4 linked regions of the Homo sapiens genome follow. The protein of the gene in region 4 purifies or fractionates together with the protein of the main gene of each other region. This does not show direct contact. Each region holds a gene or a part of one and is shown on either strand. Other genes may lie near its edges. The genes, in order: CCDC88A, CLNS1A, PRKCI and FARP2.

Region 1 (7,029 bases), about 190 Mb from region 4:
TTTTTAAATGTTTAAAGTTATCCATGCAGGATGAACAGAGAAGCCTTCAAGTAGTAATGAGGACTTCTTAGATAAGCAAATAATTAAAATAGAATTTTCTGCATTTAGAACAGTTTTTGGTCTTAACATACTGAAATAATATAAAATTCACCTAATGAGCCAGGTGCGGTGGCTCACACCTGTAATCCCAGCACTTTGTGAGGCCGAGGTGGGCAGATCACCTGAGGTCAGGAGTTACAGACCAACCTGGCCAACATGGTGAAGCCCCGTCTCTACTAAAAGTACAAAAATTAGCCTGGCATGGGGGCGCATGCCTGTAATCCCAGCTACTTGGGAGGCAGAGGCAAGAGAATCACTTGAACCCAGGAGGCGGGGGTTGTAGTGAGCTGAGATCGTGCCACTGCATTCCAGCCTGGGTGACACAGTGAGACCCCATCTCAAAAAAAAAAAATACACACATATGTATATTTATATATAATATATATTTATATATAATATATATTATATATATTTATATATAATATATAAATTTATATATTATATATTATATATTTATATATAATTATATATAAATTATATATATTATATATAATATATATAAAAATACACATTAGATGAAATATATATATATATTTTGTCTAATCATGTTCTTATCCTAAATTGTGAGGCATTTTATTTTATTTATTTTTATTGTTGAGACAGAGTCTCAGGCCAGAGTGCAGTGGCGCGATCTCTGCTCACTGCAACCTCCACCCCCCCAGTATCAAGCAATTCTCCTGCCTCAGCCTCCTGAGTAGCTGGGACTACAGGCGTGCACCAGCACGCCTGGCAAATTTTTTGTATTTTTAGTAGAGACGGGGTTTCTCCATATTGGCCACGCTGGTCTCCAACTCCTGACCTCGTGATCCGCCTGCTTCGGCCTTCCAAAGTGTTGGGATTACAGGCGTGAGCCACCACGCCTGGCCTGCAAGGCATTTTATAACTATTTGAACCTGAATTTTAAAAAATATATTATTCACTTATTTATTCATTCATTTACTCAAAAAATATATTGAATGCTTTGTATGAGGCTCTGTTTAGGCTCTGAGTATGATAGTAAAAGCAAGTCTTTGCCCTTATGGAGCTTACAATAGTTGTCAGTTTGACAAAATAAGGAAGCAGGCTATGGCAGACAATTGTTAGACTGATAAAAGATTGACATGGTTTACTAAGCATTTCTAAATAAAGCTTGAAAGTAAATTTGGCTGTTCATATAATTAGCACACAGTCAACAAATGTTATTACTCATGAAGTATTAATCTCAATTCTATTATTGAAATCTCAACACCCCATTTACTCCAAAAGCAGGTGCAGTTAATAACCAAAGCAGGCCACAAAGCCACAGCAGTGGAGAATTTAGCCTGCTTCATGACCATGAGGCTTGGTCCAGCAGTGGTAGCAGTCCAATCCAGTACTTGAAAAGACAGACCAGATCAAGCCCAGTGCTCCAGCACAAAATATCTGAAACACTGGAGAGTCGACATCACAAGATCAAAACTGGTTCCCCTGGAAGTGAAGTTGTTACTCTACAACAGTTTTTGGAAGAAAGCAATAAGCTTACCTCAGTACAGGTTAGTTTTATCTATGATGACCTTAATTTAGATGAACACCACAAGTTAAATTTCTGTAATTGAACTTCAGAGCTTTTTTTTTTTGGTAAGTTAAGGAGTATTAAGAGGTACCACAATTTTATATTGCACAGTCTGCTAAATCAGGAAAGTAAAAACATGGCACTATATTCACTAATCTGCTTTGAATTTTTTTTTAAACAGATAAAGTCCTCAAGTCAAGAGAATCTTTTAGATGAAGTAATGAAAAGTTTGTCTGTCTCTTCTGACTTTTTGGGAAAAGACAAACCAGTTAGCTGTGGTCTGGCCAGGTCAGTAAGTGGAAAAACCCCAGGGGACTTCTATGATAGACGGACAACTAAGCCTGAGTTTTTGAGACCTGGTCCTCGAAAAACTGAAGATACCTACTTCATTAGTTCTGCGGGAAAACCTACACCAGGCACTCAAGGAAAAATAAAATTAGTAAAAGAATCTTCTCTGTCACGACAATCAAAAGATAGTAACCCTTATGCAACTTTACCTCGTGCAAGCAGCGTGATCTCAACTGCCGAAGGAACTACACGAAGGACAAGCATCCATGATTTTTTGACCAAGGACAGTAGACTGCCTATATCAGTTGATTCACCACCAGCTGCTGCTGACAGCAACACCACTGCAGCATCTAGTGAGTACCATTTACACCAGTGGTCCTCTCATATACTTGACATCCCAACACATACTATAGGTTCTTGTGCCCAAAATGATTTAGCTATAGACATGCCTGAGCCTCTATATGCCCAGGCTAGAAACTCAAGAACAGGAAGGTCACATTTTCTAAACCAAACTTTTGCCACTATTAGGATGCCTAGTGATGCATTCGGAATGTTGGCAAAAGATAGCATAGGACCATTTACTGTGGCCCATTCATCTCAGCCATTCTTATCCCTGAATACAGAATTAGTTAGTAACATAAGTGGGTTACCTCCTAGGCCAGTTATCAGAATAACTGACCAGGCTTCTGCCTCTTTGGATAAACCTGCACAGAAAGAAAATGAACAGTTTTCTGATCATCAGAACCCTAGTAACAGTAACCTACAGTTTTCTATAAATAGCAACAATCTTGTCACTTCTGCATGCCTCTATCCTGATGACACAGAAGCTGCATTGTTGGTTTCTGAGGATAATCAAACTGTTTGGTATGAATATGGTTGTATATGATCAAAACTGCACAATATAATATATTGATGTTATTTGATATACACTGCTTCTCTAATATGATTTGAAAAGTTGCTGTTAACAAAATATCATTTGGCTAGGTTTTTATTTTTTATTTAAAATTGTTGCACAGTGTTCAGCTGTACATGATGGCATGTATATTAATGTGAATGTGTAACCACACCAAAACCTGCATGAAATATTAATTACTTTGTCCATTTTCTGCATGCCTTTAAAAACCTTAACCATACATGCTCCTCCTTCACATTTTTTGTTGCCTGATAAGATTGTTACTTTGATATCCAGAAGCATGTTAAAACAGTTGCATGCTCTCTTACCAAGAAGACATTTCCAAGTCATATTTGCTTTGTTGCTTCTGGAAAAAAATGTTCATTTCCTCCCTCCCTTCCTCCTCTTCCCACCCCTCACTTGCTCTGACTGTCACTCCTTTTTTTCTTCCAGAATGTGTACTTTATATTACATATGTACAGTATCAGTAGGGAAAATGTAAAAAGATGTTGTTTTCTTTTGTCATTTAATTAGGCCATCTGTCCTGTTTTAAAGAAATAGTTAATAATTCAACACTTTATATAACAAATATTAACTAATACCCATATTTATAAAACATTTTTCAGATTTAAAAGATTGTTAATACTTATAAACTTAGTGTTATTCTTAGAAAACCCCATCAAATTTAAATGTGATTTACACAGTGACTAGGAACATTTGTATTTATTGTTTCTTCTCTGCACTTTTCATCATCTGATAAATACAAGAGCTCAAGTAACTGTCTTTTCTTCAAGATGGCTTCTATACTTGAAATCAGTTAATACAATAGTTTTTCCAGTTCTTTTTTTATAGAGAGTCAAAGAGAAATAAACCAAATTATATTCATTGTGTTGGAAATTTGTATTTTTACTTCTAATCAAAAAGGGTAGCAAGTTTACAAAGTGGTAAAAATTGTTACTTCTATAATTAATCTATTATTAAATTATACATGTATATCCTTAAAACAGAATTTTTTTTAAATGAATAATCACACTAAAATGTAAAATTAGAACTTGTAACCATTTAAACAAGTATGTTTCTAGTAGAACAAATTTTAGAACTAAGAATAAATACACTCTTTAGCTTAAAAAAAAAAAAAAAAGTAAGAAAATATTTGTTAACTTTGACTCCAGTGCAAAGAACTTTTATTTTTGTGTTCACAGCACTTTTAAAGCAAATTAGCTAAATTTGAATCTCTAACTCCCAGATTGCTAAAAACAAAAAAACCCATAACCCTGATCCATTTACTTCCAGAGAAATACACATTGGCATTCTCTCTGGAATGTTTTTTGCCATTTGGATTTAGCCTATAGCTGATAAGGACTCAGCCTGGCACCTGGAAGGAATGCCTTCAAATGTGACCATGTGGGGATGAAATTATGTTATACTTGTTGTTGTTGTTGTTGTATTAAGTGGTTATTAACTGGACCAAAGAAAAAATCTGTAGAGAATATTTCCTAATGAAATTTGTCTCCTTTGTAATCACACTTTTTTTCCGATAGCTATTACAAAAAAAAAAAAAAATGGTTCTGGTACAGGTAATCAAATGAACACAATCAGAGGATTGTCATATTTTAGTACCACCTAATATACTTTTTGCATCCTTCTATTTTATTGTCAGTTACTTCCCAGTCAGTCCTGACATTTCAAATATATTTGGTGCTAATATTTTCCCTTTTGTTTTTTCATAGGCCAGTAACAAAACTTAATAGTAAACATAGCTGAGATTAAATGGGGGCAGTATATGACACAAATGTTATAATTAGTGTTATTTCTTTTCCACACTGAGTCAAAGATTATTTCACAGCTATTTCAACTTTTTAGATATCATAATTCTGACCATAACACTTCAAAATATTGTATTTATTCATTCAAAATTCATTGAAAAATCACATGCTATTATATTAAAATTATGTGATTATTTTACAAAATTAGACTTACAGAAAAGAACTATTTCCTACCCAAAAAGCTATATGTTTATATGCAGCATGTTTCCAAAAAAAAAAAAAATACACTGTGCATATAAGAGAAATATGTATCATGTCCATGTGTCCTGAGGACTGTTGGAAAATACAGTCTGGACTTCAGAAATCATCACCTGCTGTGGAGTCATAAAATTCCCCCCAAAACACCACTAGTTCTTTTTGTTTGTTTGTTTGAGATGGAATCTCACTCTGTAGCCTAGGCTGGAGTACAGTGGCGTGATATCATCTCACTGAAACCTCTGCCTCCTGGATTCAGGCAATTCTCCTGCCTCAGCCTCCCAAGCAGCTGGGATTACAGGAGCATGCCACCACGCCCAGCAAATTTTTGTATTTTTAGTAGAGACGGTGTTTCACCATGTTGGCCAAGCTAGTCTCCAACTCCTGACCAGCTTCCCAAAGTGCTGGGATTACAGGCGTGAGCCACTGCGACTGGCCACAACACTAGTTCTTATCAACGTTTTTTCATAGCATTTGGAATCAAATTTTTAGTGGTGAAAATACCTTAGAAATCATATGGAACCGATGTGTCCCAAACATTTAAGAAAAAAAACAATACTTTCTGTAAGTGAAATCTTACATAGATGCCCCAAATTTTAAAAAATGAATTTCATTTAAAGTAAAAGTGAAACAACTCTGACTCAATTGAGCAATTGCACTTATTTCCTCTAAGACACCTCCAGTTTTCAAAAGGATTATTTGTAAAACTATTCGAAGATTCAGTACCCTAATTTTATAAATGATGAAGCTGGATAGCTTTCAGTATTCCTGGCCTAGCTTTCTAGAAATTATAAACATATTCTTATGCACTGCATCCCCTTTGACCAAAGCAATTTTAGCTTTAACCAATGTAAGGAGGAACATTATTTGCCTATAAAATATGCATCAAGCCCTGGTTTTCTTAGTAAATAATACAAATACTTCATTCCAGATGGTTTTGCTACTACATGCAAGATTATGTTTAAGACTGTAGGTGACCATTTAGTAAATAAACATAGTAAGGCTATCTGGCACTAAGAGGGGGGGAAATGTAATTGTTATAGTTTTTTTAAAAATTATAGCTTTCCTAGGAATATTACTTATAGCTTTAAAATATAAAAATCGATCTTTAAGTATTGAGATGCCTATGAGATTAATAATTTTCCCAGACAGTTACAGATTCCTTCTCCTTGCCCTACTCAGTGAGAGTGTATTTCTTATCTTCTGAATTGTATTTTGTTTCATCTTTGACTAAATAACATGAAATGCTTTTCTCCTGCAGATGTGGACAAAGTACAAGAAAGCAGAAATTCAAAAAGCAGGTCTAGGGAGCAACAAAGCTCCTAATTCTATTACCCACTACATGACATGTGGGCCAAGTGGTGAGTTTCCTGCTTAAAATGTAAATGAGATTAGTCTCATTTATACAAACTAACCAAATTAAGTGTGAAACAAGTGCACATTGCATTAACAGATGTAAATATTGCTTGCTTAATTCATTGACTTTCTGTTCTACTTACTAGTGAAGCAAGATTAGTTGGCTGCCATAGGTTTTTACCTGTCAGCGCAAGGAACAAGTATTTTTTTTTAAGTTTTTTTGTCACTTTAAATTTAATTTTACTAGTGAATTATGTTCTAGGAATTACTTTTTTAGTTTGAAGCCTTTTGTGGTAGGAATACAACTTCCCCACAGTTTTCTTGAAAATTAATGACTAAATGCCTATTCTATGATGAGCCACTCAAAAATTATCTCTGATTGTCTGTCATTCTCATTCTTATAGAAATACCTGGTGCATGCTGTTCTTATAGTGGCTGCTCTGTATTTTGTGTCTCTCTTATCTTTAAGCTTTTCTTATATTTTCTTTCTTCTTTCTACCTTCCAACTAAATACAGAGAGAAAAGTGTCCTTCAGTTTCTCAGTATGAAGCCTTTATTTCTGAAGTAACAAGACACCTAGCAACTATAGGAATCATTTTTAAAAATCTTTAAGGAGACTTTTAACAGTCCTTCGTGAATAGAGCAGGCAAGAAATACAAACCTTCATTCCTTGAATCAAGGAGCACTACTGGATTCAACTGCCAAAATTTTTTAAAGGTTTTAGGACTTACTATACCTTGTACTGTTAAGATCTACTGAATAAAGGACGTTCTCTCACTAAGGACCAGGTGTTTTAAGGTTAAGTGTTTAAAGAAGTACTCCAAGAACAATCTGCTTTTTTC
Region 2 (7,029 bases), on a different chromosome or scaffold from region 4:
TTGTCTCTGAAAAAAATTAAACATTATTTGTTTCAGCTTTTCACAAACAAATCTCTTATGTTTCTTCTTTAAGATTTTTTTTTTTTTTTTTTTTTTGAGACAGAGTCTTGTTCTGTCGCCCAGGCTGGAGTGCAGTGGCGCGACCTTGGCTCACTGCAAGCTCCGCCTCCCGGGTTTAAGCGATTCTCCTGCCTCAGCCTCCTGAGTAGCTGGGACTACAGACGTGCTCCACCACGCCCAGCTAATTTTTGTATTTTTAGTAGAGACGGGGTTTCACCATGTTGGCCAGGCTGGTCTCAAATTCCTGACCTCATGATCCACCCACCTTGGCCTCCCAAAGTGCTGGGATTACAGGCATGAGCCACCGTGCCCGGCCAAAATAATTTTTTTGTGTGTGAAACATAAATACAAAAAAAGGGTATAAATACACACACATACTGTGTACATATATATACAGTCCAGCCGTTCTTCATCTGAGGGAGTGAGGGAGAATGCCCAGAGATGATAAAGCTGGAGAAGGAGAGAGTCATGTTCATAAATTTGGCTTATAGCCTTTAGGCTTTGGTGAAACTATTTAGTTTGAGGCAGAGAGGGACAGCAACAGATTAGGTTTGGCTGGACTTGGTTTAGTCTCTCAGATTTGTGTTGAAAGATTTAGAATCTCCGGCTTATTTCAGAGCTTAGTTTTTTATAGGAAGTTGAATTTTTTTTTTTTTTTGAGATGAAGTTTCACTCTTGTTGCCCAGGCTGGAATGCAATGGCGCAATCTTGGCTCACCGCAACCTCCGCCTCCTGAGTTCAAGCTATTCTTTTGCCTCACCCTCCCGAGTAGCTGGGATTAACAGGCATGCACCACCATGCCTGGCTAATTTTGTATTTTTAGCAGAGATGGGATTTCTCCATGTTGGTCAGACTTGTCTCAAACTCCCGAACTTAGATGATCCATCTGCCTCGGCCTCCCAAGATGCTGGGATTATAGGTGTTAGCCACTGCACCCGGCCAGGAAGTTGAATTTTTATCCAAATAAGGAAGATACAGAGGCATGAATAATATAAAATAGACAGTTTAAAACAGGTAAAATAGGTAATCAAATTAAAATTAGGTAATTTAAACTTAAAATTTTTTTTTTGTATCTCATTCCAAAATTAATCTTAAACCAAATAATTAAGTTAACCCAAATTCAAGACCTCTCTTAGCTTCCTGTCCTGTTTTTCATCCCGTGCTGGGAATAAAGGACACTCACCATACTTGTGCAAAAGCATTTGAATTCAGCAAAACATGTTCTCTACATGTTTACTCTGTGTCTAATTCTTCTTGTCTTTCCCTTTTGACTCACGGTTTCTTTGGAACTGGGTATGATTAATTAAATGTTTTAGAAGGATTTCTTCTAGAATATATACAAAGAGTAAATGCAAATCAGAATTTAATGATCAGACAAAACAGTTATATTTTTAGATGATACAGTGAAATCTTTTATGTTTCTCTACATCACTTTGAAAGTTAGAACTTGAATACTTTCAGTAGATTTATTACAATCATCCCAGCAAACTTTAATGGCAGCATGTCTGGCCTATTTCATCGTGGCCTCTGCTAGAATTAGAAAATCTGGTGGTGGTGCAACAAATAATTCATGTGCAATAGGATTTAATTTGTTGTTAATAGGTATTTGTTCAAATTAAAATTGCCAGATTAAATGAATGTACTGTCAAATCTCTTTTTTTTTTTTTTTTTTTTTGAGATGGAGTCTCCCCGTTGCCCAGGCTTGAGTGTGGTAGCGTGATCTTGGTTCACTGCAACCTCCGCCTCCTGGATTCAACCAATTCTCCTGCCTCAGCCTCCCAAGTAGCTGGGATTACAGGTGCCTGCCACCACACCCAGCTAATTTTCGTATTTTTAATAGAGACAGGGTTTCGCCATGTTGGTAGTCTGGTCTGGAACTCCTGACCTCAGGTGATCCATCCACCTCGGCCTCCCAAAATGCTCCCAAAATTATAGGCCTGAGCCACCACGCTCGGCTTATAATGTCAAATCTTTTTTAACATAGTAACATGCTGTTGGAAAAAATAAGTTGTTGAAAGTAAGTTGTTTTCCCATTTAAAAATATCTGTGAATATTAATATATGATTTGCATTTGTAAATCTGAAAAAGTAAAATACAGAAACCTAGGGTTTCTTTTCTTTTTTTATTTAAAAAAAAAAGAATTTAACGATTAGAATAAGTGTTTTTAAGTGTGGAACTTGGCTTCTGTCCTATAGAATGCATAATCCCAGTTCATGTAAAAGATTATGAGAGTTCCATAGCAAATGCTGTGCAGAGGAGCATTTGTATTCTCTCTGCACTAGTAAGGAATTACAGAGGTATTATGATGGCTTTTAAAAGTGAAGGCCATAATTTGATAGGCACTCATTCTATGTTTAGGTTTCAGTTTTTCCATGTCGTCATTGAGTCATTCAAGTTTTATGGCTCTGGATATTTGAAATTATTTTGGACACCCAAATTTGGAATGTTTCTTTCTGAATTGTGATAACGCCAGAAAATTTTTGAGATCAGAAAAGGGCAGTTTATTTGCTTTAAAATAATACAGCTTTTGTAGGGGACTCGTGATACTTGGGCATTATTTCCTCTCCACATTAAAAGGAAAGCAGTGGGCAGGAAAGATGCATACAGCACATAACCTCATTACATAATACAATGTTTCTTTGGAACCAGTAGGAATGAGTTGTTCTGGAAAACAATTTGTAGAGGTTTTATCACTTTTAGCTCTTTAAGATTTATCACTTTTAGGCCAGGCGCAGTGGCTCACGCCTGTAATACTGGCACTTTGGGAGGCCGAGGTGGCAGATCACCTGAGGTCGGGAGTTTGAGACCAGCCTGGCCGTCATGGCAAAACCCCATCTCTATTAAAAATACAAAAATTAGCGAGGCGTGGTGTCACACGCTTGTAATCCCAGCTACTTGGGAGGCTGAGGCAGGAGAATCGCCTGAACCCTGGAGGTGGAGATTGCAGTGAGCCAAGATCATGCTACTGCACTCCAGCCTGGGTGACAGAGTGAGACTTCATCTCAAAAAAACAAAGATTTATCACTTATAAGCTTCCTAGTTTTCCTTTACTTTTTTTTTTTTAATAAGAATGTTGGATAGAAATCTTTCCACATGACAGTGCATATATTCTTACTTTTGCCTTTTGAAAGTATACAATTAGGGGCAGGGTGTGGTGGCTCATGCCTATAATCCCAGCACTTTGGGAGGCCGAGGCGGGTGGATCACGAGGTCAGGAGATCCAGACCATCCTGGCTAACACGGTGAAACCCCGTCTCTAAAAATACAAAAAATTAGCCGGGTGTGGTGGCGGGCGCCTGTAGTCCCAGCTACTGGGGAGGCTGAGGCAAGAGAATGGCGTGAACCCGAGAGGCGGAGCTTGCAGCGAGCCGAGATCCGCCACTGCACTCCAGCCTGGGCGACAGACCGAGACTCTGTCTAAAAAAAAAAAAAAAAGTATACAATTACGTAAGTTTTAGTATATTTACAGAGTTGTACAGTTATCACCACAATCTAATAATCTGCCTTTGTTTTTGGTAATGCTTTCGGTAACTGAGGGTCATGTGGTTAGACATTGATTTCATTTAGGGGAACTGAGGTGGAAAGTTCATCCTCCCCTTCCACTGAACATGAGTGATCTCAGACTGTCACACTGTCATTGTTCCTGCCCAAGGCAGTCCTAGGTTCTCCTGTTTTACTTTTGTTTTTGCTTGGTTAGAAATTAGACAGCCAGGCTTGTTAAAATTGTATAGAATATAGAATGATACAGGGGTCTTACTTCATTAACTTTTAAAAATAATTCATATAGCATACAGTTTAACCATTTAAACATACAATTCACTAGTTTTTAGTCTGTTTACAGAATTGTGCAATTATCACCACCATTTTAGAATATTTTCTTCACCCCAAAAAGAACCTGGTACCCAGTAGCAGACATTCCCTATTTCCTTCTAGCCCTAGGCAACCACTATATTGCATTAACATTTTTTTTTTGACTTCTTCAGGATTTTTTACTTTTTTTCTGCTAAGTGGTACAGCTCCAGATGGATGAAGTATTATCAGAAAATTAGCTAGCCTCTACTGAAAGCTCAAAATACTGATTTTGGTGATGTGTTTCCTTTGTTACACCAATAAAATATTTGCATTTGACCACATTTGAGGGAAAACTAGATCTAGCTTTTCTGTGGCTTTCTCTTAAAGACGTTGAATAAATGAAAGGCTTCAGGGAATCTGTCTCTCAGGGTAATAATTATTTCCTGACTTGCGGTGAGTGTGATTACAGCCATTTCATATATATGTCTTTTAGTGTAGGATTCATGGAGAAATGCATGATTACCAAGGATTTATTGCATACTTAACTCCTGAGCTCTTTGTTAACGGTTTTGAAGGATGTTAATAAAGGAATGTGACAAGTTCTGCTGTCCGATAGTTCACATTCCATAAGGGCACATATAAGACTCATTACCACAGAGTTAAGTGCTAAAATTTGCAAATCAGAAAAGGAAGAGATCTTTATGGACTGGTGTAGTTGAAGGGAGGCCTCATGGAAGAGGGGAGGATTTGCAAAAGCAAAGAGGGTATTTGAAGACATACCAAAAAAGAGTAAGCATGAAAGTCATAGAAACATACATGTGACTGAGGAAAATGGAATTTCAAGTCTGTTTGAATTTATAGCTAGAGGGAAAGAGACCGTAACAGAATTGATCTTAAAGAAAACTCAGTTTCCACTACTGAATTTTCTTATTTTATGAACGTTTCTAAAAAAGTAAACTTGAATTTATTTATATGCATAAAGGTGTCCAAGCTGAACTTTTATATACTTTGTGGTCTTACATGAGGATTTACTTTCTAAAAATAATCTACTTAAAACATGTTTTTCAGCCGCCTGTCTTGGTTAGATGGCTCTGGATTAGGATTCTCACTGGAATACCCCACCATTAGTTTACATGCATTATCCAGGGACCGAAGTGACTGTCTAGGAGAGCATTTGTATGTTATGGTGAATGCCAAATTTGAAGGTATGTATGGTGTAATTTAATCTAATGCCTCCTTTGATAGCAAATTATATTTTAAAAAAGAGTCTTTGAGGCCGGGCACGGTGGCTCACGCCTGTAATCCCAGCACTCTGGGAGGCCGAGGCGGGCGGATCACAAGGTCAGGAGATCGAGACCATCCTGGCTAATACGGTGAAAACCCGTCTCTACTAAAAAATACAAAAAATTAGCCAGGCGTGGTGGTGGGCGCCTGTAGTCCCAGCTACTCAGGAGACTGAGGCAGGAGAATGGTGTGAACCTGGGAGGTGGAGCTTGTAGTGAGCCGAGATCATGCCACTGCACTCCAGCCTGGGCGACAAAGTGAGACTCCGTCTAAAAAAAAAAAAAGAAAAAAAAGAGTCTTTGATAATAATCAATGTAACATTGAGGCCATTGACTCATTTTGGGTAGTAGTTTATTAAGCAAAATTTCAGCACAGCAACTTGGACACTTGAAGTTTTCACAATGGATGTTCATGTGTGTCTGTATATATTTCTCTATATTTACACTTAGAATTCTTCATTTATTATGGATATGTATTTCTAGCTTTTCCTCTAAAGTTTCACTGTTTATTCTGCCTTTCTCTTTTTAAAAGGCACCCTTAGGGGCTTGGATCAGTATACCCTGTGCTTCTCATAATTTAAGATAGAACTGTTTTGTTTTGTTTCAGTAGTGGGTCTCAGTGGTTGTAGGGGGGATATATTTTCCATGGGCCTCCACCAACCTCACCATTCCCCCACATTTGGCAGTGACATTTTGGTTGAAAGAGGAAGGGTATTATTGGTGTCTAGCAGTTAGATGCCAAGGATGCTATTATTATACTAAATATTCTGCTATGCACAGATGGTCCCCCACAACAAAGAATTATTCCATCCAAATGTCAGTAGTGCCAAGGTTGAGAAACTGTAGGATATAAAGATTCTCAAGTTTTGCTTTGGGATAATTGCAAAGACTTGTAAAAGTCTAGTGAAGATGCTCATGTTTAAAATAACGGGTTGCTTTTCTTTGAAGTAGTGTGTAAGAGACAATCCTATGAAGTTACCTACAAGGCTATTGCTCTTTCAAATTTAGATTTTAATATGGTTCCAGATATAATATGATCATTTATATTCAGGTGTGAAACTATTTAGTAATTCTTAGGACTTTTGGCAAGACCTGCCTCATTAAGTGGTAATGACTGATTCAGCTATCTGAAAATATTTTTGTTATAAGATTTCAAATTCTTGCCATTGGAAAAGGTTCAAAGACATTTAAAAATCTAGTGAAGTTTGAAAAAGAGGATGAGGAAAAGTAAAAGGCTGTTAACCTTGGGGTGTAGTAGTGTAGTAAGACTTCCTAATAAGGCATTTGGCACAAAATTTACTCTCCATCTAAGTAAATGCAACTATGATTTTATAACCAAGAATATTATGTGTCATGTTTAGTTTAAAGCATTCATTCATTTGCAGAAATGCGAAACCTTGCTCTTGTCAGTCAACTCCAGATGCTGGTGTGAAATGGCCCCAAATAGTGACGGCCATTGGAGGTGGGAAAGGTACATGCCAAGAGAAAGGCTTAGGAAATAGCATTTAATAAATACTAGCCTAAGGGCAAAAGCACATTGAATAAGAAAACTCTGTCATTAGGCCGGGCACAGTGGCTCAAACCTGTAATCCCAACACTTTGGGAGGCCAAGGGGGGCAGATCACAAGGTCAAGAGATCGAGACCATCCTGGCCAACATGGTGAAACCCTGTCTCTACTAAAAATACAAAAATTAGCTGGGCGTGGTGGCGGGTGCCTGTAATCCCAGCTACTCGGGAGGCTGAGACATGAGAATCACTTGAACCCGGGAGGTGGAGGTTGCAGTGAGCTGAGATCGCGCCACTGCACTCCAGCCTGGGCAACAGAGCAAAACGGTCGAAGAAAAGAAAAAAAAGTAAGAACTCTGTCATTAACTTGCTAGGCAAGTCATTTGC
Region 3 (7,029 bases), on a different chromosome or scaffold from region 4:
GAGCTGTGACTATGTCATTGCACTCTAGCCTGGGTGATGGAGGAAGACACTGACTCAAAAAATGAAAAATAAATGAAAATAAATGAGTGCAGCCAGGCAAGGTGGCTCATGCCATAATCCCAGCACTTTGAAAGGCCAATGTGGGAGGATCGCTTCGGTACAGGAGTTCGAGGCCTGCCTGGGCAACACAGGGAGACCTTGTCTCTACAAAAAAATTAAAAATTAGCCAGACATAGTGGTGTGTGCCTACAGTCCCAACTACTTGGGAGGCTGAGGTAGGAGGACTGCGTGAGCCTGGGCAGTTAAGGCTGCAGTGAGCTGTGATTACACCACTGTACTCAGCCTGGGTGACAGAGTAGAAATGTGCCTCAAAAAAAAAAAAAGTGCAAAATACTTATCATGGTTCTTTTTCTTTTGTTCCACTTTTTTCAGTTGAGTTTTTTTTGAGACAGAGTCTCGCTCTGTCACCCAGGTTGAAGTGCAGTGGCACAATTACAGGCGTGAGCCACCACACTCGGCCTCAGTAACATTTCTGAATAACACTAACTTTAATTCTTTAAAAGCTTTTTTCTTTAATTGACAGAAATTTTTCTATTATATTTCACTAAGATAAGAGATTATTACTATAATTCAATACTGTCTAGAAAATTCTAGCCTATGGCTAAAAATAAATAAGGCTGGGCGCAGTGGCTCACACCTGTAATCCTAGCACTTTGGGAGGCCAAGGTGGGTGGATTACCTGAGGTCAGGCGTTCGAGACCAGTCTGGCCAACATGGCGAATCCCCATCTCTACTAAAACTACAAAAATTAGCCAGGTGTGGTGGTGCACGCCTGTAATCCTAGCTACTCAGGAGGCTGAGGCAGGAGAATCACTTGAACTTGGGACGCGGAGGTTGCAGTGAGCCGAGATCACGCCACTACACTCCAGCCTGGGCGACAGAGTGAGACTCTGTCTCAAAAAACATAAAATAAATAATAAATAAATAAATAAGATATAGAAAAGAAGAGGCAAAATTGCTACTTGCAGATGACATTATCTAGCTTAAAAATTCTAAGACAGTTAAATTATTAGTAAGGTGGAAAGTTTAATTTAAACATACAAAAAGAAAACAGTATGTAATAGGTCTACAAGAAGACCCCATTCACAAAAGCACATGATTATAAAATATATAGGAATAGGCCGGGCACGGTGGCTCAAGCCTGTAATCTCAACACTCCGGGAGGCCGAGGCAGATGGATCACCTGAGGTAAGGAGTTCCAGACCAGCCTGGCCAACATGGTGAAACCCCATTTTCACTAAAAATACAAAAATTAGCCAGGCATGGTAGCGCCTTGCCTGTAATCCCAGCTACTTGAGAGACTGAGACTGGAGAATCGCTTGAACCTGGGAGGCGGAGGTTGCAGTGAGCCAAGATCACGCCACTGCGCTCCAGCCTGGGTGACAGTGCAAGGCTCCATCTCAAAAAAAAAAAAAACAAAAAAAAAAAATTAAATAATGAATCAAGCCATTCCATAACATATATCAAAGTTAACTATAATATTACAATAATTAAACCAATAGTGGTATGTGCAAAAATAGATCTCTCCCCTAAAATCAATGAAACAATAGAAAGTACCTACGCACATTGTGGGAAATTTAGTACATAACAGAGTTACCATTTCAAATCAGTGGTGAAAGGACAATCTGCCCAATAATGGTATTAGAATAAATTTTGGAGAAAAAAAAAGTTGTGTCAGTACCCTATAAATGACTAAACCCCAAAATACCAGATTCACTGAAAAGATAATCACTTTAAAAGTTTCATAATAAGCCAGGCGCAGTGGCTCACGCCTAAAATCCCAGCACTTCGGGAGGCCACAGCGGGTGAATCACTTGAGGTCACGAGTTTGGGACCAGCCTGGCCAACATGGCAAAACCCTGTCTCTACTAAAAATAAAAAATTAGCCGGACATGGTGGCGCATGCCTGTAATCCCAGCTACTTGGGAGGCTGAGGCAGGAGAATCACTTCAACCCAGGAGGCAGAGGCTGCAGTGAGCCAGGATCGTGCCACTGCACTCCAGCCTGGGCGACTGAGCAAGACCTTGTCTCAAAAAACAAACAAAAATTAGCCGGGTGTTGTGGCGTGCGCCTATAATCCCAGCTACTTAGGAGGCTGAGGCAGGAGGATTGTTAGAACCCAGGAGGCAAAGGTTGCAGTAAGACGAGATCACGCCACTGGGTTCTACCCTGGGCAACAAAGCAAGACTCTGTCTCAAAAAAAAAAAAAAAAAAGTTGCATAATAGAAGAAAAATAGAATATTTTTAGATGAAAAACACTTTTACCTAAGACAGTAAATCCAGAAACTATCAAGGAAATTTTTAAAAAGGACAGGTTTGATGACATAAAAACGAAAAACTCCAGACTAGCAACAGATTGGGGAAATGCTGGCAACTTTAACAAAATGTCAATGTCCTGTCAACAAATTAATAAGAAAAATAATACAATAGAAAATGGGTAAAATAGGAACAATCCAGAAGAAATACAAATGATCATTAATATATAAAAGATACTTGTAAAAATAAATTACCATTTTTTGCCAATCTGACAGTCAAAAATTTAAAAGACAGATAACATGCAATGGGAATATAAGGCAGAAGCTTCACTAGTCCTGTTGTTAAGAATGTAAATTAAGCTCTTTTGGGAAACAATATCATATTTCAAGATAGGCATATCTTTGACCATATTTACAAGAATATGTATTAAATATAAGGAGGTTCCTTCAACATTATTTGAAATAGTGAGTTGATGAAGACAACTTTAAATGTTCATCAATCCGAAAAAAGATTAAACATATTATGGTGGCTGGGCGCAATGGCTCATGCCTGTAATTTCTACACTTTGAGAGGCCGAGGCAGGAGAATCACTTGAGCACAGGAGCTTGAGACCAGCCCCGTCCCTACAAAACATATTAAAAAAAATTAGCTGAGCCTAGTGGCGTGAGCTAATCCTAGCTACTCAGGAGGCTGAGGTGGGAGGACTGCTTGAACCCAGAGTGGTTGAGGCTGCAGAGGGCCTAGATCATGCCACTGCACTCCAGCGTAGGCAACAGAATCAGACTCTGTCTCTTAAAACAACAACAACAACTGTAGAACACTGTATTACCAACTATAAAGAGGTCTGTCTACCCTGGAATGAAAAGATGACCACGATTTTTAAAATCAAGTTGCAGATGCATGTGTGGAAATATGAACTCATTTATTGGAAAAATAAAAGGGTATGTCTGTGTGTGTGTATGCACATACATATCTATACTTATAAATATACCGATATGATATAGAATATCCCTAACTGTTAACAATGGCTATCTCTAGAAAGTGGGAGTGAGACAGCCATAAAAAATAATGAAATCACGTCTTCTACACCAGCATGGATGGAACTGAAGGCCATTATCCCTAGTCAAAAAAATCAGAAACAAAAAGCCAGATACCACATATTCTCACTTATAAGTGAGAGCTAAACAAAGGGTACACATGGACATAAAGAGGGAATAGTAGACATTGGAGACTACAAAAGGTGGGAGGGGGGTGAGGGTTGAAAAATACCTATCGGGTACAGGTAATTTTCTGGGTTTTACTGTTTACTGTTCCGGTGATGGGTACACTAAGTGACCAGACTTCATGGCTACATGATACAAACATGTAAGAAAGAAAGAAATCTGCACTTGTACCCTTTAAATATATAAAAATAAACTAATAAAATAAAATAAGGTGGGAGTGAGAGACTACAGGGGAACTTTATATGTGTGTGTATGTATATGTGTGTGTGTGTGTGTGTGTGTGTATATATATATATATTTGTGTGTGTGTATGTCTGTGTGTGTGTGAGACAGGGTCTCACTCTGTTGCCCAGGCTGGAGTGCAGTGGTGCAATCACAGCTCACTGCAGCCTTGACTTCCTGGCCTCAGGTGATTCTCCCACCTCGCCCTCCTAGTAGCTAGGACTACAGGCTAATTTTTTTGTAGAGATAGGGTTTCACCACATTCAGCCCAGGCTGGTCTCCAATTCCTGGGCTCAAGTGATTCACCTGCCCTGACCTCCCAAAGTGCTGGGATTACAGGCATGAACCACCATACCCAGCCTCTTTCTGTATTTCTATATTTTTAAAATTTAGTTTTAGTGCCTTGCCTTTGTGATCTGTATTTGGCCACTGGTGTCATTTTTGTTTCTATTATCGTTCTCAGCCACATTCCTACATAGGTTAGCTGTCAAGCACAGTGCTTGCAACACAGAGTAGACAGACAATAAATAATTGCTCCATTCTTTCTGACATTTCCTCCTGAATGCCTCATAAACACCTAGAACTCAAAATTCAGTGAATTGTTCCAGCCAATTAATTAACTTCTCCCACAAATCTCTTCCACATTCCCCAGTCTCTCTTAAACGAGAAACCTATGAGTTGTCCAACTCCCGTCACCCCTACAAGACTATCTTTAATTCTACTGATACTACCCCTTAAAATTTCCACCGAATCCATACACTCTTTTCTCTCTCCTTAAAATATCTCATCTGGACTACTTCAAAAGCCTCCAAATTAGTTTCATCCATCACCAATCCATCTCCCATACTAATTTCAAGTGTTATCTTTCTAAAATGCAAATCTGATCATGTATTTCTCTTACTTAGAATTTTCATCAATGAGAAAAAGTCTAAACTCTGCAGTATGACATTCAAGGGTCTTTACAATCTAGCCCCTGTGAACTTTCTTAGCCTCATTTCTCATCAGTGCCCACTTCATACTTTATATCCTAATAAGGAATGAATATGAGACTAACAGCCAAAGTGATCTTAATTCTGCAAACTTACCATGTGGTTGTTTAATGCCTATAACACCCACCTAACATCATTATTCACCAGGCAAACTCCTAGTTATCCTTTAAAAGCCTCAGACATTTCCTCTAGGAAGGCTTCCATCACCCCAAACTCCTCCCCAACGTCTATTCCTGCAAATACCTTACATAGGTACTTCAAATTAAATTGTTTCTATTGTAACTCTTATATGTCCTTCCCTCCACAAGTCTCTTAATTCCTTAAAGGCAGAGCCTTACCTACCTCTACATTCTCTGTGCCTACGACAGCATCATGTGCCTGGATTACGGACGTTCAACAATATTTACTAAACTCAGTTTGAATGATCTCTGGTTATATTTGAAATCTTAAGCAAGACTGGAATTTTTAAAATCTATGTTTAAATTAGGCTCATTTCAATCATAAAAAAAACAGACACTAAAGTTGTAAAAGGAGGGCTGCAGTTGCATTAGAAAGCCATCATGAACTAAGGACCTGTGGGGAGAATTTTTCTGTGCAGAGTTGCTCCTTTCTCCTTTGCTTCCTCAGTTTCTGCTTCTTCACATCTTTCATTTGCACATTGTCAGTTCTGGCCTCGCCAGACTCTCCCTCCAACTCCAGCTTCAGTTCCCAGTGCTGACCAATTTTATCTCCATATTTTCTCATTCAAATTTCTGAGGGTTTTTTGTGTTTGGTTTGGGTTTTTTGGCACCAGGCTAGCATGCTCTATTTTTTTCTCTCTTTGGCCAAGCTATGGATCAGCTGCCCTAGGATTAGGTGCCATGGCTGAAGCTCTAAGACCAATTAGCTAACATCCCCCCAACCCTCAAGATACCACTTGTATTTCCTCAGAACCATTACTAAAGTATATTGCTAAAATAATCTTGCATTTCTTTCAAAAACAAGTCTTGCCAAGACTTGTTCACAGTAAGAAAAATCCTACATACTTCTTCACTGAAGCAGCTATTCCAAATATGCAAAGAGTTAATCTTTTATTTCTAGATGTGCACAGAAGGAATCCTCTGTATTGTTATTACTACTTGACAGCAGCGGTTTAAAAAGAACTTTCACAAGCTTTCTGCAAAAATTTCCATACATATATAATGTAAAGAAATGAGCAGTCCAGATGTTGCCTTGTTAAAGTCTATCCCATAATAGCAAGTAATTTTATATAAGGATAAGCACATACATTGACAGTTTATCACTAATTAATGAAACCTGTTTCTCTTCCTCCAAACTACTAGCACTAGGTAATAACTGAAGGCCCCTCACTGAAAAGCTTCCTTGCTAGGAAAAGACGGGTGCAGGCCATGAGAAAGGCATCTAAGTAAGATGTGGTGTCCAATAAAATTGAATTTTCAGTGCTATTAATCTCTTGCTTAAAAACTAGATGTAAATTGGCTGGGCAAGATGGCTCATTCCTGTAATCCCAACACTTTGGGAGACCGAGGTGGGTGGATCACTTGAGGTCAGAAGTTGGGAGACCAACCTGGCCAACATGGTGAAAACCCGTCTCTACTAAAATACAAAAATTAGCTGGGCGTGGTGGTGGGCGCCTGTAGTCCCACCTACTCGGGAGGCAGCCGCAGGAGAATCCCTTGAACCTGGGAGGCGGAGGTTGCAATGAGCCGAGATCACGCCACTGCACTCCAGCCCAGGTGACAGAGCGAGACTCCATCTCCAAAAAAATAAATAAATAAAATAAAATAAAATAAAAATTAGAAAAAAATTAAATGTTATTAGATCTAGAGAGATTACACGTTTTCACTGAGATCAAGCTTAACAGAATAATAACACTATACACATCTTTGAAAAGAGAGGGCAATTTTTTCACTAAAAAAAATGCTGGCTATTAAATGAGTCAACATTCACTGGAAAGAAATATTGTTAGAAAAGGGTAGTGGAGCCAGGTACAGTGGCTCACACCTGTAATCCCAGCACTTTGAGAGGCTGAGGCAGGAGGATCACTTGAGCCCAGGAGTTTGGGATTAGCCTGGGCAACACGGTGAGACCTTGTCTCTATTTAAAAAAAAAAAAAAGAAAAGAAAAGTGTAGAGGGATAGAGGAAATGCTATGTAATAATGGCCCTTCAGAAGATTGGAGAGAAAAGAAAACTTTTTCAAATGCAGAATGTTCTCACATTTCTTGGTATAAAGGAAGGATTTTCTATTTTAAAATCAGGTAGGTGTTCTAGTTAGCCA
Region 4 (6,839 bases):
TCACTGCATCCTACAACATTATAGGGCCTTTTTGTTTTTGAATTTTAAAATGGCAATAAGCTAAAACACCAGTTTAGGGGAAAACAATTCATGACTCTTAAAATAAAACCACTTACAACACTCTAACTACCCTCCTGATCCTGTTCACCTCCTCATGTATTTTTACAACACTATGATTGCTGTGTACACACCATTTCAACTTTTCAGTTAAGTCACATTTTAAAGCATATTTCCATGGATCAAAATGGTTCAAATTTTCCTTGGATGGGAGGATGGGATTCAGCTTGTGGAAGCATGTTTACTTGCTATGGAGTACTCTACCCTACTGACACAACAAAGTTTATCAGATTGTTTTGAAAAGTGTGATTCCAAAATCAAAATCTTTGCCACATACTGCTACTTTCCAAAAAGATTAGACCAATTTATAGAATCACTGTCAACTAAACGCTCCCCAGAAAATCACCAAAGACTGGGCTTTATCATATTGCTTTGTAGGATCCTCAACTTTTCAACTCCCTGTGGCATTGACAAATACGCTATGGTCAAAGGACTCTATATTCTGATCTCAGAGAACATGACCGGAATTACCTCAGCTCAGTATCCAACACTACAATGGGGTTTTGCCTGTATATCTAGCACTATGCTGTGTTTATGAAGCTCATGACGCACTGAGTAAAGGGGAAGCTGGCAAGCTGATATGAAAGTGGGTGAAGGAAAAATAAGAACAAAACTGAAAGGACAAGCAGCAGTAAGAAAAATCTGTTACTGTCCGAATATAGAAGAGGTATTGATGTGACTAGAAGCAGGGGTGTTTGGAAAGGAAGGAAGCAACTGAATTCTTTGGGCCAAATGGATTTAAATGAGCTCACATGGAATTGCCCATGCATTGATCTTTGCTTTGGCAATCCAGTTCATACCATTCCCTCTAAACAGGATAAATTTGCTTAATTATTGCCTAATTTTTTCTCTACTGTTTTTTGTAAATATCCAGGGTTAGCTTGTTCTACTTTCTACTCGGATTATTTGTCCACCTGATAATAATAATGGCTAACATTTATTAAGCACTTACCTTGTGCCAGGCATCTTGTTAACACAGCTTTTTTTATTTATTTTTTTATTTTTTTGAGACAGAGTCTCGCTCTGTCGCCCAGGATGAAGTGCAGTGGCACAATCTTGGCTCAATGCAACCTCCACCTCCTGGGTTCAAGTGATTCTCGTGCCTCAGCCTCTCAAGTAGCTATGATTACAGGCGTGCGCCACCAGCCCAGCTAATTTTTGTATTTTTAGTAGAGATGGGGTTTCGCCCTGTTGAGCAGGCTGGTCTGGAACCCCTGAGCTCATGCAATCTGCCTGCCTCGGCCTCCCAAAGTGCTGGGATTACAGCCACTGTGCCTGGCCAAGTAAATTTTAAACTCATTTTTTGAATAAGGAACCTGAGGCAGAGAGAAATGAATACACCTTATATCAACTTCCTCTTTGGGAAAGGAATTAGTATACAAGGAACCTGGAAATTTACTAACGACTGATAGTCCTATAGGTAAATAAGCCAGCAAACGTCTGCAGTCCAGGAAACTGCATCATCAGCATTTAGTTTGTTAACAGTGAACCACCTAATGAGAATCTGCAACAAGGATAGGGCACATGAGAAGTACAGATGGTATTTGCAAGTACCCTAGGTGTGACCCTAAACTGGTCATTCCACCTCTCTCAACCTCCCTTTCCTCTACTTTAAAACGGGGCTGTGCAACTTGGTCATGTCTCTGAAGAGTTTTGGAAAACTGAATAAATAACGAGCATGAAGTGCTTCCTAAACCTTTAAGGACCTCAAAAAACAAAACAAAACAAAACTTTCAACAAGCAGATGTAGAAAATTTAAATTATATTTGGCCTACAAGTAAAGGTTACTCCATGCTTCCCTACCTCAAATGTCCTCTCCCATCTCTCTGGTACTGAGAAAATCTGTGTCGCCTGTTATAAGGCAGTCTACACAAGACCAACACGCTAACCCACTGCCACCTCAGGGTTATCAAACATTTACACAGTGGCCCAGACAAAAATATCCCACGGAAACAAAACAAAAACAAAAACCCAGAGAGAAAAACCACCCTTTAAAGATTTGGCCTTGGGTTTTAAATTTGCCCATCCCTTTTTAACACTATGTATTGACAATCTTTCCTTCAATGATGCCTTGTTCTAATTTCTGCTTTTCACATCCATTAATGGCACATGATAGGCCAGGGGTTGCTGCCATAGCGTAAACGGAAAAGGTGCCCGTAATTCGGGTGTGTAATGTACTGGGCCATATTCTGGTCCCCAGTTTTCATGGGTTTCCCAAAGGCTACCCACTGGCTTATGAGTATTTCTAGCCCTTAGTGGAGTAAAAATATTAACACCTAACACTTGATTCCCACCTTTAAGATACAATTTAAAGAAATGCTAAAAAGGCAAACGGCTCAAAATGCCTCCACCAGGCACCTCCAGGCCCATACCCTGCGGGTCCCTATGGCCCACTCTGGGGTGTCCTTCCGGGATGGGACACTCCCCGGCCCACGGCCCTGCCGGCCTCCACGGGGCACAACTCAACCCGCGAGTCCACGCGGGACACTCCCCGGTCTACAGCCCCACCGGCCTCCTCCACGCGGCACCCCTCAACCCGGGAGTCCACGCGGGCCACTCCCCGGCCCACCGCCCCGCCTGCCCCCACGCGGCAGGCTCCCTACAGACGGACGCTCCTCTAACCCGGACCCGCCTAGGAGCTCCAGCCGCCTCACGATGGCCTTCAGAGGCCGGGCGGGACCATCTCTGGTGGACCGCGGCCTCAGCGCCCCCCCCGCCTGGGCCTCTCGCCTCGGGCCTCGGGCTTCGCCGCCCACCCGGAGAGGCCCACCCCTGCCCCACGCGCCCAGGCCGCTTCACGTCCTCACCCTCGGCCTCTCGCTCGCCCGCCGCGTCCTCACCGGCCTCGCCCGGCCTCCGCAGTCGCAAGCAGCAGCCGCCAGACTCGCGTCGGCGTCGCCTGCTCCCAACTGCCCGCCGGCAGCCCCCGCGCAGCGCGCCCCGCCCTGACCCCGCCCCCGCGACGCGGACGCGCAGTCGATTGGCCTGCGGGGCGCCAGGGCGGAGCCTTCCCGTCCCGCGGCCTGAAAGCGCAAGATCGAGTTCTGATTGGTGAACGGACGGAGAAGGGGCGGGAGCAGGCAGGCAGCTGCGTAGGATATAAATCTGTGCAGCGCTCGGCTCGTTGGGCGGGGCGTCGGCTTGCTGAGCGAGGCAATGTCCTAGGCGAAGCCAAGGCTCGCTGGGCGGGGCTAGATCTTGGGCGGGGAGTCGGCTCGTTGGGTGGGGCTAGGTCCTGGGCGGGGAGTCGGCTCGCTGGGCGGGGCTAGGTCCTGGGCGGGGAGTCGGCTCGCTGGGCGGGGCTAGGTCCTGGGCGGGGAGTCGGCTCGCTGGGCGGGGCTAGGTCCTGGGCGGGGAGTCGGCTCGCTGGGCGGGGCTAGGTCCTGGGCGGGGAGTCGGCTCGCTGGGCGGGGCTAGGTCCTGGGCGGGGAGTCGGCTCGCTGGGCGGGGCTAGGTCCTGGGCGGGGAGTCGGCTCGCTGGGCGGGGCTAGGTCCTGGGCGGGGAGTCGGCTCGCTGGGCGGGGCTAGGTCCTGGGCGGGGAGTCGGCTCGCTGGGCGGGGCTAGGTCCTGGGCGGGGAGTCGGCTCGCTGGGCGGGGCTAGGTCTTGGGCGAGGTCTAGGCTCGCTGGGCGCGGATAGGTGCTGGGCGAGGCCTAGGCTTGCTGGGCGCGGATAGGTGCTGGGCGAGGCCTAGGCTTGCTGGGCGCGGATAGGTGCTGGGCGAGGCCTGGCTCGCTGGGCGGGGATAGGTCTTGGCCCGGGCCTTGCCGGCTGTCCTTGCACCCTTTGGCTCAGTCCCTGGCTGCCAGCCTCCTCCTTCCTCCAACGCATTGCATCCCTCGTGGGACTACAGGGACCGAAGGGGATCATCGAAGGATCGCGCGAGGCTGTGCTAAGGCTGAGACAGGCTGCTCCGTGGTGGCGGCCAGGACGGCCTTCCTCTGGCCTAGGGACCCCCACCCGAGAATGGAAGACTGACTTGCTGTGGCACACTTCCCTTCTCTTGAGAAGTTCATTGAACTCCTATGTGTTCTTCAAGACCCTACCCATCGTGCTCTCCTAGCCCGGCCCTGTCACCCACTGTCACCATGTGGCTGTTGAGGGAATAATTAACTTCAGGAAACACCCGGGCACTTAAGAGACTCCTCCTATGGTGCTGTGGATTCCAGAGTGAAACCTGACCCTTCGTTTCCCAGAAGCCCAGACAGGAGAAATGCTGGCTCAGGGGAACCTCCATTTCTCCTGAGACAACTATGGGGTCTGAGACCCAGGCACACCAAGACTGGGCTCAGCTGTGCGGGATGCTCCCCTCATGTGCCACCCACCTCTGGGGCTTTTCCTTTAACCAACCCCCAATGACACCACCAGGCCCAGAGTGGTGCACACACCCCAGAACAGAGGATCCCTGCCTGCAGACGGGCAGGGCCGGGTGGGGATAGTGCAGGTGAGAGCCTGGCCAGAGGGTGGTACTGACCCCTGGTAGGATGCAGGGTGTGTGCTGGTGACCTGAGGCTGGCAGTCTGGAGGGAAGGCAGCAGGCGTGGCAGCTGTCAGCTGAGGAACTAGAGAGAGCAAGTTTCAGTATCCAGGGGTCTGTCTATAAGGAAGCTCAGAAAACACTGATAGCAAGGTAAAAGGGGCCCAAGGTGGTCCTGGGATGATCAGTCCAGTGGGCAGGAAGAAGGCTAGAGGCCTTGGAGTGTAGGTGTCCAGCCACCCAGATCAATTCAGGTTTCCAGTTTCCTTTACTCAAGTGGCAGAGCCGCCTTAGCCTATTCTTGAAAATTTATAGGTTAGAAATTTCTTCCTAGATATATTTCAATCATTCACTTATATTTCCAGTAATTTAGTAGTTGCTATTATCAATGCGATTTCTTTTCTCACTACATTTTCTAATTAGAAAATAGATATCACTGACTTCTTAGTGTTAATTTTCACCAGATGTCTTGTACTTTCTAAGTAGATGTTCTGATCACCTGTAAATAATTCCTTTCCAATCTTTTGTGCTTTCTTTTGGGCTGGATCTCCAATACGTACAAACTTGTCCAGTACTGACACTATTGATTCAAGTAATTTTTCTTGATTTTATACAAAGATGTTGTCAAGACTTTGAATTTTCCCAGAAAACCTCACAACTTTCCCTTGCAAATAACCAAGAGAAATACTCATTTAATATCTAAACAATAGTGCTTTATTGATAAAAGGTTAGTTTAAATGGATACAAAATTGCTGTGTAAAATAAGTGTTTTCAAAATACATTTCTATAGGTAGAGACTATGTCTTAGTAAAAGAGCAGTTATCTATTATCAAAAGTATCTATTTAGATTTGGGTAGTAAAACCAAAGGGGATCAGAAGTGTAGCAGTGTGGGTCCTCCCTCCCTGCATAGCTGTTACCAGGAGGCAGCGTGCCTGAAGTACTTTCACTCACATATGCGGGGCTTAGTCACTAGCAAACTTGTTTTTCTTTTTTACAGATTTTCCAGCAAAGTTATTAAATGTCAAACTCAAATAATGGACTCCGCATGGATGTACTCTGAAGTCATGGAACACCACTTCTTAGTTACCTTCACACAATAAGCCATAACATATAGCTTTTGGCTGTTCACAATTAAGCAACAGTGAAGGGCAAAGTTAGCAAGAACACCAGATTATTTTCTGTAGCACACCTTCATTAACTATTATTATTTAACTGCCTCATTTTATGTTTTTTCTAGCCCCCACAAAAATGAAAAAACCCTGTCTCATCCTCAGATTAAGCATTTTCTCCATCTCCCTACACAACCATTGTCTCCTTTCATCTGTCAATTTCTGGGGTTGAATTTCCCAACTTCAGTAGAAATGATAAAAAAGGCAACCGCTGGAGTGTACCATAAGGAGACACAAGAAGAAAGGTGACACTAAGGCTACAGTGCACAGAAAACAGACCAGGTGTGGCTTCGACTGTGCGGACCTGCCCACTAGCCTATGCTACAGATTTGAAATGTCTTTCACTTTGACATGACACACGGTTTATATTACACAAAATGAATGAAACGACAATGGCTAAAAATAAATGAGACAGCCTGCACACAAAAAGATGATGACTGCTACTTTCCTCCCATCAGAAAATTACTCAAAAAGGGAGTATTTAAAGGAAACTCAAATCAGGAGAACCCGGTAGGCATCAGAGGTTCAGGGCACCAAGGCCTTAGGGCGGGAACACTTTTCAACCCAAGCCAGGCTTCAGGGGCACGCCCACCAACAGACCCCAATTTCCACAGGGGAGGCAGATCTTCTATACCTACAGTGACAGAAAATACACTAAAGTGCAGTATAAAATATAAAAAGGTTTGATTCTGAATAGACCAACTGCTAATTTTCCTTAAAAAAATTTTTAATTTGGTTGAGTAAAAACCAAATTAGTTCACTGAATCTCATTTTGTAGGTAAGAGTCTTATTTGCAATACGAAAACTGGAGCTTATGACTGCTTTGATTTTCTCTGTAGCACAGGATAACCAGTATTAGTGGAGAACACTACAAAAGGTGGCTTGTGGTGAGTTCTTTGCATAGTGGTTTTAAAAACAACCTAGCATCAGAATTAAGAGACTTCTTTAAAACTCACCTCTAAAAAAGCTGTTTAAGTATAAAGATATATCTCATTAGGAAATTCTATTATGTTTTATTTGGTTAACAGATAAAATCGCAGACGAATCAACAGTATAGAATTATAGCAGCAAAACT

What was found.
Region 1: the proteins of FARP2 (region 4) and CCDC88A purify together in Homo sapiens (affinity purification with mass spectrometry; 2 studies listed by BioGRID and IntAct, with this or other methods). This does not show direct contact.
Region 2: the proteins of FARP2 (region 4) and CLNS1A purify together in Homo sapiens (affinity purification with mass spectrometry; 3 studies listed by BioGRID and IntAct, with this or other methods). This does not show direct contact.
Region 3: the proteins of FARP2 (region 4) and PRKCI purify together in Homo sapiens (affinity purification with mass spectrometry; 2 studies listed by BioGRID and IntAct, with this or other methods). This does not show direct contact.

What each region holds. Positions count from the first base shown.
Region 1 is NC_000002.12:55,290,839-55,297,867, reverse strand, and holds part of CCDC88A (girdin), read left to right. Parts: intron 1-1,344; coding exon 1,345-1,610; intron 1,611-1,811; coding exon 1,812-2,271; intron 2,272-6,092; coding exon 6,093-6,157; 3' UTR 6,158-6,192; intron 6,193-6,703; 3' UTR 6,704-7,029. UniProt on the Homo sapiens protein: Bifunctional modulator of guanine nucleotide-binding proteins (G proteins). Acts as a non-receptor guanine nucleotide exchange factor which binds to and activates guanine nucleotide-binding protein G(i) alpha subunits.
Region 2 is NC_000011.10:77,627,791-77,634,819, reverse strand, and holds part of CLNS1A (methylosome subunit pICln), read left to right. Parts: intron 1-4,920; coding exon 4,921-5,057; intron 5,058-7,029. UniProt on the Homo sapiens protein: Involved in both the assembly of spliceosomal snRNPs and the methylation of Sm proteins.
Region 3 is NC_000003.12:170,225,411-170,232,439, reverse strand, and holds part of PRKCI (protein kinase C iota type), read right to left. Parts: intron 1-7,029.
Region 4 is NC_000002.12:241,352,474-241,359,312, reverse strand, and holds the start of FARP2 (FERM, ARHGEF and pleckstrin domain-containing protein 2), read right to left. Parts: upstream 3,029-6,839; 5' UTR 2,925-3,028; intron 1-2,924. UniProt on the Homo sapiens protein: Functions as a guanine nucleotide exchange factor that activates RAC1. May have relatively low activity. Plays a role in the response to class 3 semaphorins and remodeling of the actin cytoskeleton.